Linked DNA regions of Homo sapiens: regions 2, 3 and 4 are each reported to be linked to region 1. Evidence: microRNA targets listed by miRTarBase, many of them from high-throughput screens and not tested one by one. Region 1 holds a microRNA gene; each other region holds the end of a gene's coding sequence.

Region 1 (4,064 bases):
ATGAGAGACCTTAGGAAGGAGGAGAGGCCAGACAGACCCAGAGCTGTGGGCTGGCTCTTCCTAACTGGTCCAACATGGCAGACAACCTATGCACCGTTGAGATGCTGAGACCATCTAGAGGATATGCCCAGTCCCAAAAACACATAGTGGAAGAATGTTGATACTGGTTCTCATGTCAGAGGTCAGGCAGGGAGGGTCTCAGTCACTTAGCCTTAGCTCCAGTTTCTTCAAGATGCACATCTCCAGCCTAATGCCAAGTGGGAGGAAGTCCCAAGTCAGCAGGTTCATGGAAACTGACCCTGATCTATCACAGAGAGGAATATAAAAACTGGGTACCCTCACCTGGGCCTTTGGCATCCTGACAGTGGTTATTGGTTCATCCTGTTCGCTCCCATAATTTCCAGCTAAGGAAGAGAACAAGAAATCAAGAAGGACCCCAGAATTCAGTGTCTTCCCCTCAGACTCATCACTTGGCTTCCCTTTCCTTCCTTCTCTTAGTCTCAAAGAGGCCCTTCATCAGGAGGCGCACTGGCCACCATCTCTGTGAAAGTCAGTGTTCTCAAACAACAACTATGATTGCAGGTTCCTCAGTCCAAACCCTACGGCCCCATTTGTTTTCCTGTCTTTCTCTCTGGCTAGAGAGATATATTTTCTTTTGACACCCCACTGCTCCTCTATTAAACCTCAAATGATCTGGGATGAGTGTCTATCAGCCAGAGCATTCCTGCTGACCTCAAAGGATATAAAGGAGACTCCTGAATTGTGGAATGTCAAAGGGGGCTTTTTCCTAAAGAACAGCATTGAAGGTTTGCTAGACCACTGGGAACTGTGGATTGTCTCTTGACTTAAGGGGCTAGAGGAATGACTGTGATGGAACCACTCAGCTGTTGGGGGGATTGGGCCTATGTTGCAAAGCATGCAGAAGATGCTTTTCTAAGTTTAATGTCTTGTCAGACCAACTGGTGTGACTGAATGGAGTTTAGAGGCTCAATTCAGGCATGTGATAGGATCACAGATGTCTGAGTGTTCTTTCTTTCCTTGGGAAGGAACCATGCTGTCCTGAAGCTCCCGAGTATGGGCATCCAGTGATTTCCCTCCCGTTCTTCTCCCTTCCTACTGTGTCTCCCTGGGGTGGGGCACAAGGGCAGCAGGGCTGCAATCTTCGGAAGTGTTCCAGTGGAACCCCACTCCTGATACTAATCACGCTCAGTGGGGGCCTGCTCCGGCTTCCGCTTCTCCACGCTGCTTCCTCTGAGCGCTCCTGTCCTCTCTCTGACGCTGCTTCCTGACCTTGACTCTGACCAGTCGCTGCGGGGCTTTCCTTTGTGCTTGATCTAACCATGTGGTGGAACGATGGAAACGGAACATGGTTCTGTCAAGCACCGCGGAAAGCACCGTGCTCTCCTGCAGCATGGCCCGCCACCGCCGCCACCACCGCTGGACACCTCTCCTCTGCTCTGGAGCACCGCAGCCCACCACCTGCCAGACCCACCTCTCCCAGTCTCAACTCACCAAAGGCAGGAGGGTAGGAGTCTCAAAGGATGCAGATACAGAGGGAAATGGGTCTGGAGAAGCACCCTGGGGAAAGAGATCTGTATCCACATCTCTTTCCCAAAATGGAGTCACCCTCCCCCAAATCTAGTCTGGATGTCAGACAAGGAGTAATAACTAGGTTCAAGCTCAGAAACTACTGTGTCTCTTCTTCCACTGGAAGGGAACAAGTATACCCAAGGCATACGCCCCATGGTTTCATGGGAGAGTCCCAACCCAAGGTCATTTTTCCAAGTGGCAGCTAACCCAAAGGGGAATTCCTACTGCTTGTGACCCCCGACCCCTCCCACCACCACCTTTATTGGTATTCACTTTATTTGAAATGAACGTCAGCATGAGAATGGGTGAAACTCATGTGAGTCTGAGACTTTGGGTTTAACCCAAGGTTCCTTCTGAACCTCATTCCCATACTTTATGAAAACACAGTCCCTGAACCCCATGAAACCTAAAGTCCAGTCTGTTTCCTTGACCTGCAAAGCACAGTTAACGTGGAGGTGCTGGGCTCCTCACCTGGTGCTAATTCTGTTTCAGGGGAGGGGAGTGTGTGTGGACGTGGAAACCTGCTATCTCTGATAATAAAGAGAGGGATCTTGGTACCTCTTATTTTGCTTGTTCCTTGATAAATCCTAGACCCAGTGTAACCAGAAGACTGTGTTGTTCATTCCTGTCCTGGAGTCTTTGTCCTATTCTGCAAGAGAGAGCTAAGGTGGGAACTTTAGCCTAGCTCAGAACTAGAAGCTGAGCCCTGGGCCCCCATCATGAGGTGTGACTCTTATTACCTCGTCTATCTGAGGTTACCCCTCAGAACCAGGAGCCCAACCATTGCTTAGTAGTTTTTTAACATACATTGAGTGCTTGCTATAGGCCAGGCAGTGAACTGTTTTCACATCATTACCTTGTTTAATGTTCACAAAATCTAAAGTCCCACTTTACAGATGAGGATATTGAGGCTCAGAGAGGTTAGCTAACTTACCCAGGGTCATCTGATTCCAGAATGGCTGCACTGTACTGCTGTAATACCCACCTTCCCAGCTGTGGACAACCCCATTGCCTTGAATTAGAACATTTAAAAACTGTGATTTGATAGGGACTTGAAATTTGCTTAAACTCTCCCTTTCAGACTTTCATCTGTTAGTAGAAAGAACTTGAGTAAGAGAGAAAGCATTATTCAAATGGCTGTTCCTCTCCAGCATGGACATACAAAGATCCCATTTAACACAGAGCAAATCCTCGAGCCTGGAGAAGTTCCCTTTCCCACCTTACAGAGAGGGGCATTCTGAGGCCCTCGGCACTGCCCCTAACATGGCAGGGACCAGGCCTCTGGGAGTGGGTCCATAATGGTGCCCTTCCATCAGTGCTTTACTGGCCCCGCAGCCACAGGCTGTGATGAGGCAGTGCCAGCCTCAGACCATGGGTATTTCCCTCTGTTTTCAGGCAGATGGCTGCACTCATAATAGACTCCAAAGGGGATAGCTTACTAGGACGGCTCCCTGCCCAACTGGTGACCAAACTCCTAGTAAAACAGTTGGCATCTTCCAGCCACTGGCAGCTGGTCCCCCAGCCTTGCCCATGAGTGGATGTCTGTGTGCCTGGCAGTGTTCTCCTTAGTCATTCATCACTTATGACCCTTTGCTTATTCACATCACTGTCTTTTCAAGCTGATGAGGCCTGACAGGACTTACGCTCCCCCCAATTCCTCTTTCTGCTTCTTTCCTCCTTTCTTTTATTCCACTCATCTTAGGGATATTGGGAATAGGGGAGGAGAGCTCTGGAAACATGAGTTAGCAAGTCCATGATGATCAGATAACAATGAATTTATGACTCCCAGTCAGCAAACTGGCTGCCCAAAGGATGATACAAAATGCATACCGTTGATGGCAGCAGCCATCCTGGACCTGGTGCTGGCCTCTGATCCCAACCCAGCCAAGTCCATTCAAACATGGGAGCTTGGCTCCCTACCTGTCCCACACCCCTGGTCATCCAAATGTGACAAGTGTTCCTCCTGGGAAGTGGCTGTAGGACAGGGATGTATAATAAAATTGTGTTGCTGTAATTTCCACCTCCTACCCCCACCCCCCCGTCTATTAAAGCTTGTCTGTGATCACGTACCAAGTGTCGTTGTTCTGAGCTGCCCGCGAAAGGGGAGGAGGGCTCCAGGGGCAGGAGCAGGCAAGATGCCAGATGACATCAGCTCTTCCAAGGCTGGTTTCAGCCGAGGTTGAGTTTTATGGCCCTTCTTCAAATCCTCTGGGATCTCTTCTGTCTGAACTCACCCCAAAGAGAAGAAGCAACAGCCTATTGCAGTCGGTCCTCTATTACTAAGTATTTCTGGCAGTGACAAATATGCACTGAGATTGAAATTGACTTTTAAAGCTCTGGAAAAGTTAAAAATACTTTGGGGTAGTTATGAGCATTAGGCATAACAAATGGCTCTGAGAAACCCTGAGTAGTTTCGGTAATGAAATATGAAGTGATGGAGATGGCATTTCGGGCTGGCTCTGACTGGGGAACGA
Region 2 (4,064 bases), not on the chromosome of region 1:
TTCTGCCTCAGTCTCCCGAGTAGCTGGGACTACAGGCACCCACCCCCATGCCCGGCCAATTTTTGTAGAGATGGGCTTTTGCCATGTTGCCTGGGCTGGTCTCAAACTCTTGGGCTCAGATGATCCTTCTGCCTCAGCCTCCCAAAGTGGCAACATCTGGTTTTTTGTTTTTATTCCTTGTTACTGTTCTTTTGTATTGACCCAAGGGTTAATTGTGGTAGCCCATGCCCATCCCTCGTCTGTCTCCAAAGGGTAGGCCCGGTAACCTTGAACTCCTTTGGCTCTCAAAAGGGAGCTGGGAGTTGCTGCTTGAATGCTCTCCTCCCCAGCCCCAGGGGCTTTGAGAGTGAGCTACGGAGGGCAGGGCATTTGGGGACCCTCTGGCTTCTGCCTCTCATTCCGGGCAGGTGGAGGAGCGGCGGGAGCGCTACATGGACTCCTATGACATCGTGCTGGAGAAGGACGAGACTCTGGATGTGGTCAACGGGCTACTGCAGCACATCCTGTGCCAGGGGGTCCAGCTGGAGATGCAAGGCCCCTGAAGGCGCAGGCTCCAGCCCGGCCTGCAGGCCGTGGTGAGGAGGGGCGCCTCCCCAGAGTCTGCTCCCCCGTGAACACAGAGCAGAGGCCAGGGTGGCCAGCAGTGGCTGGGTCCTTCCGCGCCCCTCCGTCCTCCTTTCCCTGAGCACCTTCATCACCAGAGGCTTGAAGGAACCCCGCCATGTGGCAGGGCACAGGCACTGTTCCTGGTGAACCTTGGACCACAGCATGTCAGTGCTCTAGGGATTGTCTACTCCAGGGATTTTCTTCAAAATTTTTAAACATGGGAAGTTCAAACAAATATAATGTGTGAAACAGATCAAAATTTTTAAAATGAAAAAAAAGCTGCTCTGATTCAGGGGATGTGGGTGGGGGTAGAACCTGGACCTCTTGGCCCTGGGGGCACATGGGATGCTTCTAGGAACACAGTTTGAGAACCACCACAAATTGGCCTGAGACCCCATCCGAGCACAGCCTGATTGTGTCTGTCTGGTTCAGCGTGGGGCTGAAAGGGTATGTTCTAGCCTATAGTGGTTTGACTTTATTCTGATTCAGCCATCAAACTTGAAATTCATTTGGGATCGGTGGGGTTGAGGCAACCCTGTCTGAGAGCCCCCTCTTTAGGGATCCCTGAGGGGATGCATTCGTGTGTGGCTGTCCCCCTATGCCCTAGGCTCTCCTTTCCCCTCCTCTTATGGGTCGGGGCCACTAAAGTGGATGACCTGAAAAGGGGAATTTAGAGCAGGGACCTGAGGGAGACTGTGCCAAGGTGAAACAAGTGATGTGTGCACTGTGGTCTTGCGTTATTGGGCCGACCCTGAAGAGCCAGTTCAGCATTTTCTTAGCCTTAGAGGAAATCACCAGCACCCTTCCTGCAGTGTTCGGCTAGCCGTTGGAAAGTTCTGTTATTCTGCAGATGTGAAGCGGGAGGTAATACAGATGTTACTGAAGGCCTGCGGTGTCCCAGGTGCCACTCTGGGCACTTGGGTGCCTGCCAGTTGACCCTCACAATGACCCCACAAGTAGGTGCAGCTCCTCCTGCTTCCAGATGGCTCAGGCAGGATGGGTAACTTGCCCAAACTCCATAGCTAGGAGCTGGAGCCAGGATTTGAATGTTTCTGACCAAAGCCCATGCGTTTTGCTGCATTTCTCTGCTTCAGGCCTGTTCCATTCGTTTTTGGGAGGAGGGAGTGGCCACCATCTGAGGCTGGGTTAGTAACCACTTCCAGACTTTAATCAAGGAGCTTTCTTGGCCGGCGCAGTGGCTCACGCCTGTAATCCCAGCACTCTGGGAGGCCAGGGTGGCAGATCACTTGAGGTCAAGAGTTTGAGACTAGTGTGGCCAACATGGTAAGACCCTGTCTCTACTAAAAATACAAAAATTAGCCGGGCTTGGTGGCCCGTGCCTGTAATCCCAGCTACTCAGGAGGCTGAAGCAGGAGAATCACTTGAACCTGGCAGGCGGAGGTTGCAGTGAGCTGAGATCATACCACTGCGCTGTGGTGACAGAGCGAGACCCTGTCTCAAAAAAAAAAAAAAAAAGACTTCAATCAGGGAGCTTTCTGGATGCTTCGGGGCCAGAGAATGTCGGTCATTGCCCGTGGGGAGCAGTCACGTCTCTTAGGGGACCCTGGGCAAGAAGTGCTGATGGGGGCAGTTTGCTGTATGAGTCCAGTCCTGTCATTTTCTTTCCTAAGTCACCACCCCGTCCTCACAATGCTCGGGTCATACCAGGCAAGCGAGGACAGATGGCCTGGTTGGTGGCTGAAGTCCTCCTGCAAGACACTGTGGAGATCTGAACTCCATTACCTTTCCCCTAGCAAGAGGGAGAAGGGTGGGCAGGTGGTAACAGGTGGTGGCCAGGAGCAGGGAGAGATGGGAATATCATAGTATTGGAAATGATCTATGGGAAAGGATAATCTGACTTGTGTGGTTTAATCCTTGAACTTTGTAGGTTGTGTTTGAGGTCAGGGACCTTGTCTTTCCCATTCAATGGGGACAATTGGAGGATGAGGATCATCTCTCCACACCCTGCTGGAGGCCTCCCCTCTTTACACATTCACCCCCTCCACAGAGCAGGGCTCCCTTCCCACAGCGAAGACCCCAGGTTAGGCCCAGGGCAGGCAGGAAACCTCCAGATGGGGAGCCCCTGACCTGGGGACATGCTGTCTGGAGCTAATGAGGCCATGGAAACAGCCTGGTTTAACTTTTTCCCCAATCTCTGGGTCTAAAGGCCTCCCACAATCCCCACTTCATCCCCTAGCCATTCCCCCCTGCCCCTCAACCTGGTCCAAAAGACACCCTAAGGCCATTGGTTTAATCTTTTATTTGGAACAAAGGAAAAAAGGACTGACACCAGTTTAGCCTTTGAGTGTGCAGAGCTCTGCCCTCCCTCCCACCCCTCAGCCCCAAATCCAAGATTTCATAGCCCTAACACCCACCCAAGCAGCTTCCCTCACACATGCCCTTTGTTTTCTTCCTCTCTTCTATGGTTCCTTAGGGAAAGGAGCCTTCTTTAGGGATGAAAAGCTAACTACAGCCCAGTCTGGCCTCCAGCAGCCCAGGGTCAGCTCAGCCTCCACTGGAGGCGAGGGAGGAGGGCAAAGGGCATGGGAGAGGTAGGGCTGCCCTCCAGGAGCCTTCCCCTTCCCTAGGAGCCAGTCAGGATTGGGGAGGAAGGCAGAGGGGTCCTAGGGAGCTGTCACATAGAGGAAAAGGGGCTGGGAGTGGGGATGACAAGAAGTACAAAGAAAGAGAAAGTTTGGGGAGATGGATAACAAGCTCAGCTGTGTCAGTGATGTGGAGGGGAGGTATGGTGGGGGACCAGCCATGGCCCTATCCAACCCCAGGCTCCACAGGCCCCAAATTGGCTTTGCAAATCCAAACATTTTAAGGAAGTGGTTTAGGGATGGAAGAGAAACACGGTAGAGGTCTGTGCTGTGGATTTTCATCTAGGGTGGTGGGAACACCAGAGATGTCTCCTCTGCCATTGTTTTAGTTGGCTCCTGGACCTCATCCCAGCAGAGGGAGGGTGACTGTCAGCAGGTCAGTCCCACCGCCACTGTCCCCCTCGCAGTGGGCCTCTGTGTCTCAGGCCTGGCCAGGCTCCCTGCCCCTCAGAGCTCCTCGTGGACCCGCTCCTCGTCCTCATCTGACTTCAGCTTGAGCTCGTCGACTGTGATCTTGCCGTCCTGGTTGCGGTCCTGGTTCTGGAACATGTCTCCTATGGTTTTCTCAGGGTCCTGCCCAGGCATGAGGCGTCCTTTGCCCTCACTCACTTGAGCCTTGATGAAGGTGGAGAACTGGGGCAGGGGAGAGCCGGGGGAGCGGGCAGTGAGGGTCATGGCCTTGGGAGGGGCAGGGGCCCCGGGTGGAGGCCAGTGAGTGCTTTCTTTTTCTTCTTTTTTCCCAGGCTCCCCCGCACCCTGTAACTCAGGAAGGGCTGGGAAAGGCACTGGTGCTGGGGTCCTGGTGGGGGCTGGGGTGGAGGCGTGGCATGGGGATAGTCTGTGACTGGTCTCAGG
Region 3 (4,064 bases), not on the chromosome of region 1:
GGTCGGCTGCCTGCGGGGGCCACTGCTTGGAATGCCAGCCTGCTGAAGGGGAGCCATGCCGAGGGGACACTGTTCAAGGCACTTGAATACTGCTTAGCAAGATGAGAGATTAACCCTTAGACTCCAACTGAGGGGCCCAACCAGGAGGGGGTGCTCCCCTGGCCACGGATTGCTGTATTATTTTAGTGGCAGCTCTTAGAAGTATTACAGACAGTGCTAGCTTCACATCAAAGATCTAAGGTTAGGATCTCTATTTTTTTTAAAAAAATAAATAATAGAGGAAAAAAAATACACAGAACTGCAAGCAAAATTTAACCAACTGATTGTATCTGGCACCAGATGTAAGTCTGGCAAAAAAGACAGAATGGGAACCAACAGTAACCTAGTTAAAAATCTAAGAAGTAAAAACAGAAAAGAGAAAACAACACATATGACTAAATTGCTTGGGAGGGTCAAAATGACTGCATTTTAGACTGTTACTGTTTGGCCACTAGAATGGACAAATCTGTATTTGTCAATTTCCTCAGATTTAACACCTTTGTAAATAACAGTCATGCCTTTAAAACTAAACCCTAGCCTACTATTTCCTGTTAACTTCTTTTCATTCTTATGAAAATTAGACGATATTTAAAGATTCATCACACATGATGACAAAAGTCCCTTGAGGGTTTTGTGGAGAGGACACCACAGTCGTCAGGGCTCTGCCACTCACTGTCCTAAGGGTCACCGATGTGAACTCACTCTTCTCAATGCACCTGAATCGAGCTAGATGTTGACCCGTGTCCCCTTAAGCTCCTCTAATTTTGAATTCTCTTCTCCCTGAACTGGATTTCAAGTTCAGAAATGATACCCCCAACAAAAGACAAACGAACAGCCTGCCTCCCAGCCCCCTAGAGCCTTCTGAAAACTTCTTATTCATGAAAAGGCATTGTCTTTAGTGTAGTGACTCTTGAAATTTGTGAAAACGTGAACTAAGTGCTGCAGCTGCAGGTTAAAAGACTGTAAATGAAATAATCTCTAAAACATCATGCAAGAAACGTGGTTTCACATCTTACAGTCAAAGTCCTACAAGTTAATTAACAAGCACACGGAGGTGGAACAGCCAGAGCATACCTTTAAAATTATAACTCCCTCCCACCCCCCAAATAAAAAAAAAAGTAATATTAATTAAACTTAAGAAATAATGAATGCACCATTAAAATGTCATCCAAAGATGTTGACCTAAGACAAAGGTTTCAATGATACACAATACGGTCAAAAAGTTTTCAATCAGTAATATACAGTATGACAACTACATCTTGTAAATTATACCCAATACTGCCGGCAGTCTATCCCTCTAAAGAATATTTGCCCCTTTCATCCCTTCCTAACAATCAGATAATAAAATACAGCACCTATAAATAAGCAAAAAAAAATATATATATATACCGAAATCATCTATTGTTAGTTTAAAGATATGGCAATAAAGAAGTCTAAATTAGCAAACTTGTAGAAGCCGTAACTGATAAAACAGCTTATTGAAAAAGGTGGCAGTAATGCACTCTACGTGTGCACAGGTACTTAAGAAAATACACAGACGTATAAAATTGCACACACGCACACGCACGCACACTCTCACCCGCCTCTATTCTCACGCATATACACATAGACAAGGGAGGAATCAGAGACAAGTTAGACTTTCAGTTTGTACTTAGACTGCCCTAAAACTGTGCATAAAAAGAACTAAGAGGCGAAATGAAAGAAGGGCAAATGGTAGGTTTGGAAGTTGAAGAGCATCCACGTTTTGGTGTGAGTTTGGGCCATTTCTACAGGGATGGGAGTGGGGAGCCCAGAATGCCACGTTCTCTCTCCTGCAGAGAAAGGAAGTTTCCCACGAGTTCAACAGGGTCATCAGTGCTTGCGGTGGGAAGAAAAAGGGAAAGAAGAGAGAGAGTGCGCGTGTAAGCCCTGCCCAGGCCTGGGGAGTGTCTTCCCCTGGGAGGGCTCAGTTCATCAGGTATCCAGGAGAGTGGTGTGAGGTGAGGTGCCTTCTGTGCCAGAGAGAGATCCGTAGACTGCTATCTACTTGGGGATGGGCCCGTCTGGCCCTGGAACTGCCTGCTGTGCTCGCCCGGACTACTCTCTCCTTTCTTTCAATGCTTGCACACGTGCAGACGCACAGACAGATTGAGACACCATAAATTAAACAAAATTAACAGGTACATGCTACAGTTCTAACTTGTCTCCTAAACCTCCAAGATATGAGGTCTGATCAGCGTGCTCTGCGGTTAGAGGTTAAAAAGCAGATTATAAAATACCTAGATTCGGATCTTTTCTTTTTTTTTTTTCTTTTTTTTTCTTTTTTTTGTCCTGATTTGGCCTAGAATGGAGTGTATTAAACAAACCCTGGTCTGCAAAACCCAGGGTCAGTTAAAGCTATACATCAATGTGCACTACATGTCAGGATTCTATTCACGTACAAGAAAACACTATGTCAGCTACCACAAAATCAGAGTTTCCTGATGTGACGTTTTCTTTTTGTTAAAAAATATGTGGAGTAAATGTGTTTTATTTTAATTCAAAGTTTCAAACGAGAAGATTCTTTTCTTGAAAATATTTAGGAATCCAAACTAGTGTGTTTAGAGTCGTTTTGACTGTGCAATCTCTTAGTGGCAACTGAACAGCTACAAAAACTTTCTTTTTTAATTTTTCTGAAAAATCCCACCCCCCCTTTTATTTTTTCCTGGTTTAAGAAGATAATAGTGTATTATCGCTCTGAAGCCATTAGATGGCAGATAAAAAGCCCCCTTTTAATATGTGGGTTTGATTTTTTTTCTTTTAAAGCCCACACGGAACAGGAGGACACAAGGCAAAGCTGTAAGAGTTATTCCAGAACCTGTGGAAATCACTTAGGGCAATAAAAAAAACACTTCAGGGTACAAAAAAGCTCGACCACACATTTCCGTTTTCTTCCTTGAAAACACGACATAGATTGGGCTTAATGCTCCTTTGTTTTCTATATGCACCTTGGCCTATGGCGATTTTGCCCTGTGGCCCGCAGGGCGGTAAGTGCGCAAAGCGGTCCAGGGGTCCAGGCCGCGGGCTGGGTCTGGGCCGCGGGGTTGGTGGAGGCCGCAGGGTCGGCCCGGGCCGCAGAGTGGGTCTGGGCCGCGGCCTTGGATCTGGGCCTCGGGTCGGTGCAGGCCGCGGACCGTGGAGGGGGTCTGGGCTGCGGGCTCAGGTCCGGCCCGGGGTCGGTGCAGGCCGCGGGCCAAGCCCAGGCCACGGTGTCCGCAGCGCCTGCCCCGTCCGACCCCGTCCAGGCCCTTGCGGCCCAGCCTGGCTGCCCGCCCCAGGGCCGCGGCCCCTCAGAACTCCCATTCGATAGGTTCCTCCCGGCTGGCGGCCTTCTCCAGGCGGTGGATGATGCTGTTCAAGTTCGCGGCCTTCTTCTTGCGCAGGGGGTTGTCGCGCGAGTCCCGGGCGCCCGCGGCCTCGGGGAGGCCGAAAAGGCTCTGCAGCGAGCTGGGCCTGCGGGGGGCGCTGCTGCTGCTGCTGTTGCTGGGCGGCGGCGCGGAGCTCGGGGCCGCGGGGCCCTCCCCCGGCGCGGCGGCGGCTGAGGTAGCGGCGTCCTCGGGGGCCGCGGGCGCGGCGGTGGCGGTCGCGGAGGCGGGGCTGGGCAGGGGCCCCGGGCCTTCCACGGGGCCTCCCTCGTGGTCGTCGTCGCGGGCGTCGTCCGGGCCCGGGGTCCCCGAGGGCGGCGGCTCCGTCTGCTCCGCCGGCCGCGGCACCTCCTCCCGCTCGGCCTCTCCCTGAGACTTGGGCTCCTCGGTGTCGGCGCTGCCTGGGCCCTCAGTGGCCTCCACGCCGTCGCAGCTGTCGCCCTCCGAGCTGGGCGCCGCCCGGCCGCTGCGGGCCGAGGGTGAGTCGCTGGCGCCCGCCTGGCCCTGACTCCCGGCCTGAATTTCCTCAATGAACAGTTCTCTGCGGATCCGAGACCTACAAGACAACAAGCGGCGGGGACGTGAGGGGGGTGCTGCTGGGGAAAGGGCCTCTGGTGCTACCCCAGCCAGACCCCTCTCTCT
Region 4 (4,064 bases), not on the chromosome of region 1:
CTTCCCATTGCATGACCCCTTCAGTGAATAATAATTTTTTTCTGCCTGGTATGTATTTATAATCAAGCCTTTCTACGTTGCAGAGTTGTGAGATACCACTTTGTCACATCATTTTTCTCCCTACTTTTTGCTTCTATGGGTGGGATGGTGATCTTTTTTCTTGACCACAGATACTAAAGCTGTTTCAACCGTGCTCCTCTCCTGCAGATCTCTGGGGGAGCCATGGACTCTCAATTACATCCAAACAGTGGAGGCTTCCGCCCTGGGACACCCTCACTGCACCCTTACAGGTAAGACTCGATGCCTGTGGATCACAGAAGTACTTGGAGATGTGTTTCGGGGAGAGGGAAGGGGAAGACACAGTTCTAGGGTACTAGAAGCTAGTGGACTTAAGGCATTGCTAGGACTCTGGCTTCCTAACAGCTTTTCTCCCCACAATTTATTTTCAGATCACAGCCCCTATACCTACCCCCCGGCCCAGCCCCTCCCTCAGCACTGCTCTCTGGGTTAGCTCTCAAGGGCCAGTTTCTGGATTTCTCCACAATGCAAGCTACAGAGCTGGGGAAGTTGCCGGCTGGAGGAGTTCTCTACCCTCCACCTTCCTTCCTCTACTCTCCGGCTTTCTGCCCCAGTCCTTTGCCTGACACATCGTTGCTTCAGGTAAGAGGGGGGCAGGTATTAGATATTGGGGGATAGGGTAGGGAGAATGATTTTGTGGGGGTTGATATATTTCTCCCTGTTTCCCGACAGGTACGCCAGGATCTGCCATCCCCTTCGGATTTTTATTCTACTCCTCTGCAGCCTGGTGGCCAAAGTGGCTTTCTCCCTTCAGGGGCTCCTGCCCAGCAGGTATATTGTATCTTCACACTTCCCCTTCATTTGATTTCTCTGTCCAGTTGCTGGCTTTGATTTTCCCTGGTTTTCTGACATTCCTCCCTGCCCCCAACATGCACACCCAAATTTCTTGTTACAGATGCTTCTACCCATGGTAGACTCACAGCTGCCTGTGGTGAACTTTGGCTCCCTGCCGCCAGCACCACCTCCTGCCCCACCTCCCCTTTCTCTGTTACCTGTGGGCCCTGCTCTGCAGCCCCCCAGCCTGGCTGTGCGGCCCCCACCTGCTCCTGCTACTCGGGTGCTGCCTTCACCTGCCAGGCCCTTCCCCGCTAGCTTGGGGCGAGCAGAGGTAAGGTACAGGAACTGAGGGGCTAGGGAGCGCCAAGACTTGGGAGTAGGGATTCTGTATTTCAAGGTAGGCAGCTCATGATTTTTTTCCCCTCAGCTGCATCCAGTGGAACTAAAGCCGTTCCAGGATTATCAAAAACTGAGCAGCAACCTTGGGGGACCTGGATCATCACGGACTCCCCCAACTGGAAGGTGAAACGGAATAGGGATGTGGACTTTCCAAGTGCTTCCTTACTTTGGAACCAGGGTCTGGATCCTAGGCTTGCCTTAGACGCCCTTCTTCCCTTAGGTCCTTCTCTGGCCTCAATTCCCGTCTCAAGGCCACGCCTTCCACCTACAGTGGAGTCTTCCGCACCCAGCGCGTCGACCTTTACCAGCAGGTGAAGGAGAAACCCTTGTGGCCCCAACTCTAAATTCGAGTTGCCACCTGATTTCCTGTCCTTCCGTCTCATCGCTGACCTCTCACTGTGACTCACTGTTTAACACATGCCTGTCCCCTAGGCCTCCCCACCAGATGCCCTGCGCTGGATACCTAAGCCTTGGGAGCGGACAGGGCCGCCACCTCGAGAAGGGCCCTCCCGACGGGCAGAGGAGCCTGGGTCCCGAGGGGACAAGGAGCCTGGGTTGCCCCCACCCCGCTGAGGGAGTTCCTCTTGCCCCCTACCCCCGGGGCTTGTATATAGATTATAAATATATAAGGGGGAAAGGGGTGGGCGGGGAGGGGTTCTGGGGCTGGGGCCTCACTTCCCCTCCTCCCCCTTCCCCTGGTCCCCTGTCCCTGGGGCTGTTTGTTAAAAAAGAGTAATAAAAGGATTTAAAAAAAAAAACTTCTACAATGATTTGGGGGATGAGTTGTTTGCATTGTCTTAAAGCATGGTGCTGAGTGATCTGTAGTTTCAGTCAGGGAAATATTCATTACTTATTCCAGTGAGCTGTTGAAACTAAAAACATGACCATCGTATTGGATCTTTAAATTTTTGTGAGTCTGGAATTTGGGCTGAGCTCAGCTGGATAAATCTGCTTTTTTGTGCCAGTGAGCGAGGTCAACTGGTTATCAGTCTGCAGCTGACACCTGGGCTGGTCCCAATATGGCTTCCTTTGCATATCTAGGGCCTTGGTGGGACATCTGTAACATTACTGGGTTATCAACCAGTGTCTTCACATGGACTCTCCAGCAGGCCTGTTAAATGTCCGTGAGCTCATGTTCCAAGAGGTCTAGCTGGAATTTTCTAAGCTTATGCCATGCTTAGTTGATAAGAGCACTAAACTAGCCAAGGTAGGGGATGGGGGGGTTTAGAAGGGACTTCAACTGCATCTCAAAGGGACTAGCAAAGAATTTGCAGCCATGGGACTTCAGTTCTTTATGATGAACTAAGGGGAAATCTCTGTTAAGGCCTCAATGTTGGAGCACACTTAAGGGGCTCTTTGAATTGGATAGACCAATTCCAGCATTGTCAAACTAAGTGGGATTTCACATGGTAACGCTGCATGCTAGTTATGCTAAAGACTATACTTAGGTCTGCAGCTGCTCAGAAACTTTTTTTGATGGGTAATTTGAGAGCTCTATGCTAGTGTGCACCTGGAATATGCTCCCAACTCAAAATACAGGTTTTTTATTTATATATAAAGTGCTTTCGCACAAAAAATACAAACATCAGGCTGGGCGCGGTGGCCCACGCCTGTAATTCCAGCACTTTGGGAGGCCAAGGCGGGTGGATCACAAGGTCAGGAGTTCGAGACCAGCCTGGCCAATATGGTGAAACCCTGTCTCTACTAAAAATACAAAAATTAGCCGGGCGTCGTGGCGGACGCCTGTAGTCCCAGCTACTCAGGAGGCTGAGGCATGAGTGAGAATCACTTGAACCCGGGAGGTGGAGGTTGTAGTGAGCCGAGCTCGAGATCGGGCCACTGCACTCCAGCCTGGGAGACAGCAATACTCTGTCTCAAAAAAAAAAAAAAACAAACATCAAAACTGGCTTGTACAATTTAGCGTGCTGAGTAGAACACAACAGTGTTCCAAGGAAGTATTAATTTAAAAAAGTTCACACAAGATTAAGGGACACACTACCTAATGGAGACAATGTAGAGAGAAAGCAGCCAGAAAAATCCGACTTTTATTTCTTAAATACTGTGAAGGAAGAGGGGGGAAACGGTCCCCTGATGAGGAAGGGCCATAGAGCAAAGAGCTAAGGATCATCAGCAAAGGCCCGCTGGGCATTGGGGAAGCGCTGGGGACTGTAGTTGGGGTCTTCCTGCAGTCGTTTTTGTATATCAGACCGGAGCTAAAGAGAAAAAGTAAGCAGGTTGGAGAAACGCTGGCCAAGTCCCCATGATCCCAGCAAGCACACAAGGCCATCCCTCAGAAGCTAACATTTCCCCCCCCAAGCACACTGTCAAATAGCCCGGGGTGGCACTGTCAAGCCTTCCCAGATGCCAAAGGGGAAAACAAATGGTAGCACCAGGCTGACCAGTTCATCGCTGAAGGGATCCAGGGAAGAGGGACCCTAGCCCAACCCCTCCCACTAGACCATCCCTATTCTGCTTCAAGGTGGCACCTGCTGCCTGTAGCTCTCCTGAACCTCTGGTGCCTCCAGGTCCCGGCTCAGGCTCTCGGGGCTCGTCAGGGGCCGAGCTCCGGCTGCCTTAGCTGCCCGGCTCACAGCCTCTGAGAGAAGCAGCTGGGGGCCCTCACCCTGCATCGTCTGGGGGACAGGGGGTTGGGAGGGAAAAGAGGATCAACGTCAGATCCAGTGCCACCATCCGGCTCACCCTTTCCATGAGTCAACCACTCCACTGAGTCTCCATGCTAGTGGAGAGAGGGGAAATTAAGAGTCCAGGATGTGGTTTTTACAGCAGAAATGCCTTCCTAATTCTCTTTG

What was found. Region 1 holds the annotated microRNA hsa-miR-218-5p (UUGUGCUUGAUCUAACCAUGU, at 1,324-1,344, shown strand). A microRNA usually pairs through its seed, bases 2 to 8, with sites in the 3' UTR of a target mRNA and lowers its output. Matches are read on the target gene's strand: a 7mer-m8 pairs with bases 2 to 8, a 7mer-A1 pairs with bases 2 to 7 and ends in A, and an 8mer does both.
Region 2: miRTarBase lists FKBP10 as a target of hsa-miR-218-5p. The part of its 3' UTR that is shown has no 7-base or 8-base seed match.
Region 3: the mRNA of CUX1 is a reported target of hsa-miR-218-5p. The part of its 3' UTR that is shown has no 7-base or 8-base seed match.
Region 4: the mRNA of BAG6 is a reported target of hsa-miR-218-5p. The part of its 3' UTR that is shown has no 7-base or 8-base seed match.

What each region holds. Positions count from the first base shown.
Region 1 is chr5:168,765,491-168,769,554 of GRCh38, reverse strand. It overlaps MIR218-2 (microRNA 218-2), which reads left to right and starts at 1,300; the gene lies at 1,300-1,409. The region is part of intron 14 of SLIT3 (slit guidance ligand 3); the gene reads left to right.
Region 2 is chr17:41,822,001-41,826,064 of GRCh38, reverse strand. It overlaps FKBP10 (FKBP prolyl isomerase 10), which reads right to left. Exons shown (of 10, transcript NM_021939.4): 10 at 2,852-3,842. The coding sequence ends at 3,657. NT5C3B (5'-nucleotidase, cytosolic IIIB) reads left to right here. Exons shown (of 9, transcript NM_052935.5): 9 at 408-1,008. The coding sequence ends at 542. Among named protein-coding and RNA genes, the nearest start is that of FKBP10, 11 kb to the right of the region's middle. RefSeq lists an enhancer at 3,472-4,064.
Region 3 is chr7:102,248,326-102,252,389 of GRCh38, reverse strand. It overlaps CUX1 (cut like homeobox 1), which reads right to left. Exons shown (of 24, transcript NM_181552.4): 24 at 1-3,978. The coding sequence ends at 3,348. Among named protein-coding and RNA genes, the nearest start is that of SH2B2, 37 kb to the left of the region's middle.
Region 4 is chr6:31,635,760-31,639,823 of GRCh38, forward strand. It overlaps BAG6 (BAG cochaperone 6), which reads right to left. Exons shown (of 26, transcript NM_001387994.1): 25 at 3,741-3,887; 26 at 3,269-3,467. The coding sequence ends at 3,372. It overlaps PRRC2A (proline rich coiled-coil 2A), which reads left to right. Exons shown (of 31, transcript NM_004638.4): 25 at 208-290; 26 at 450-660; 27 at 751-849; 28 at 974-1,186; 29 at 1,283-1,377; 30 at 1,475-1,565; 31 at 1,687-2,012. The coding sequence ends at 1,827. Among named protein-coding and RNA genes, the nearest start is that of MIR6832, 4.0 kb to the left of the region's middle.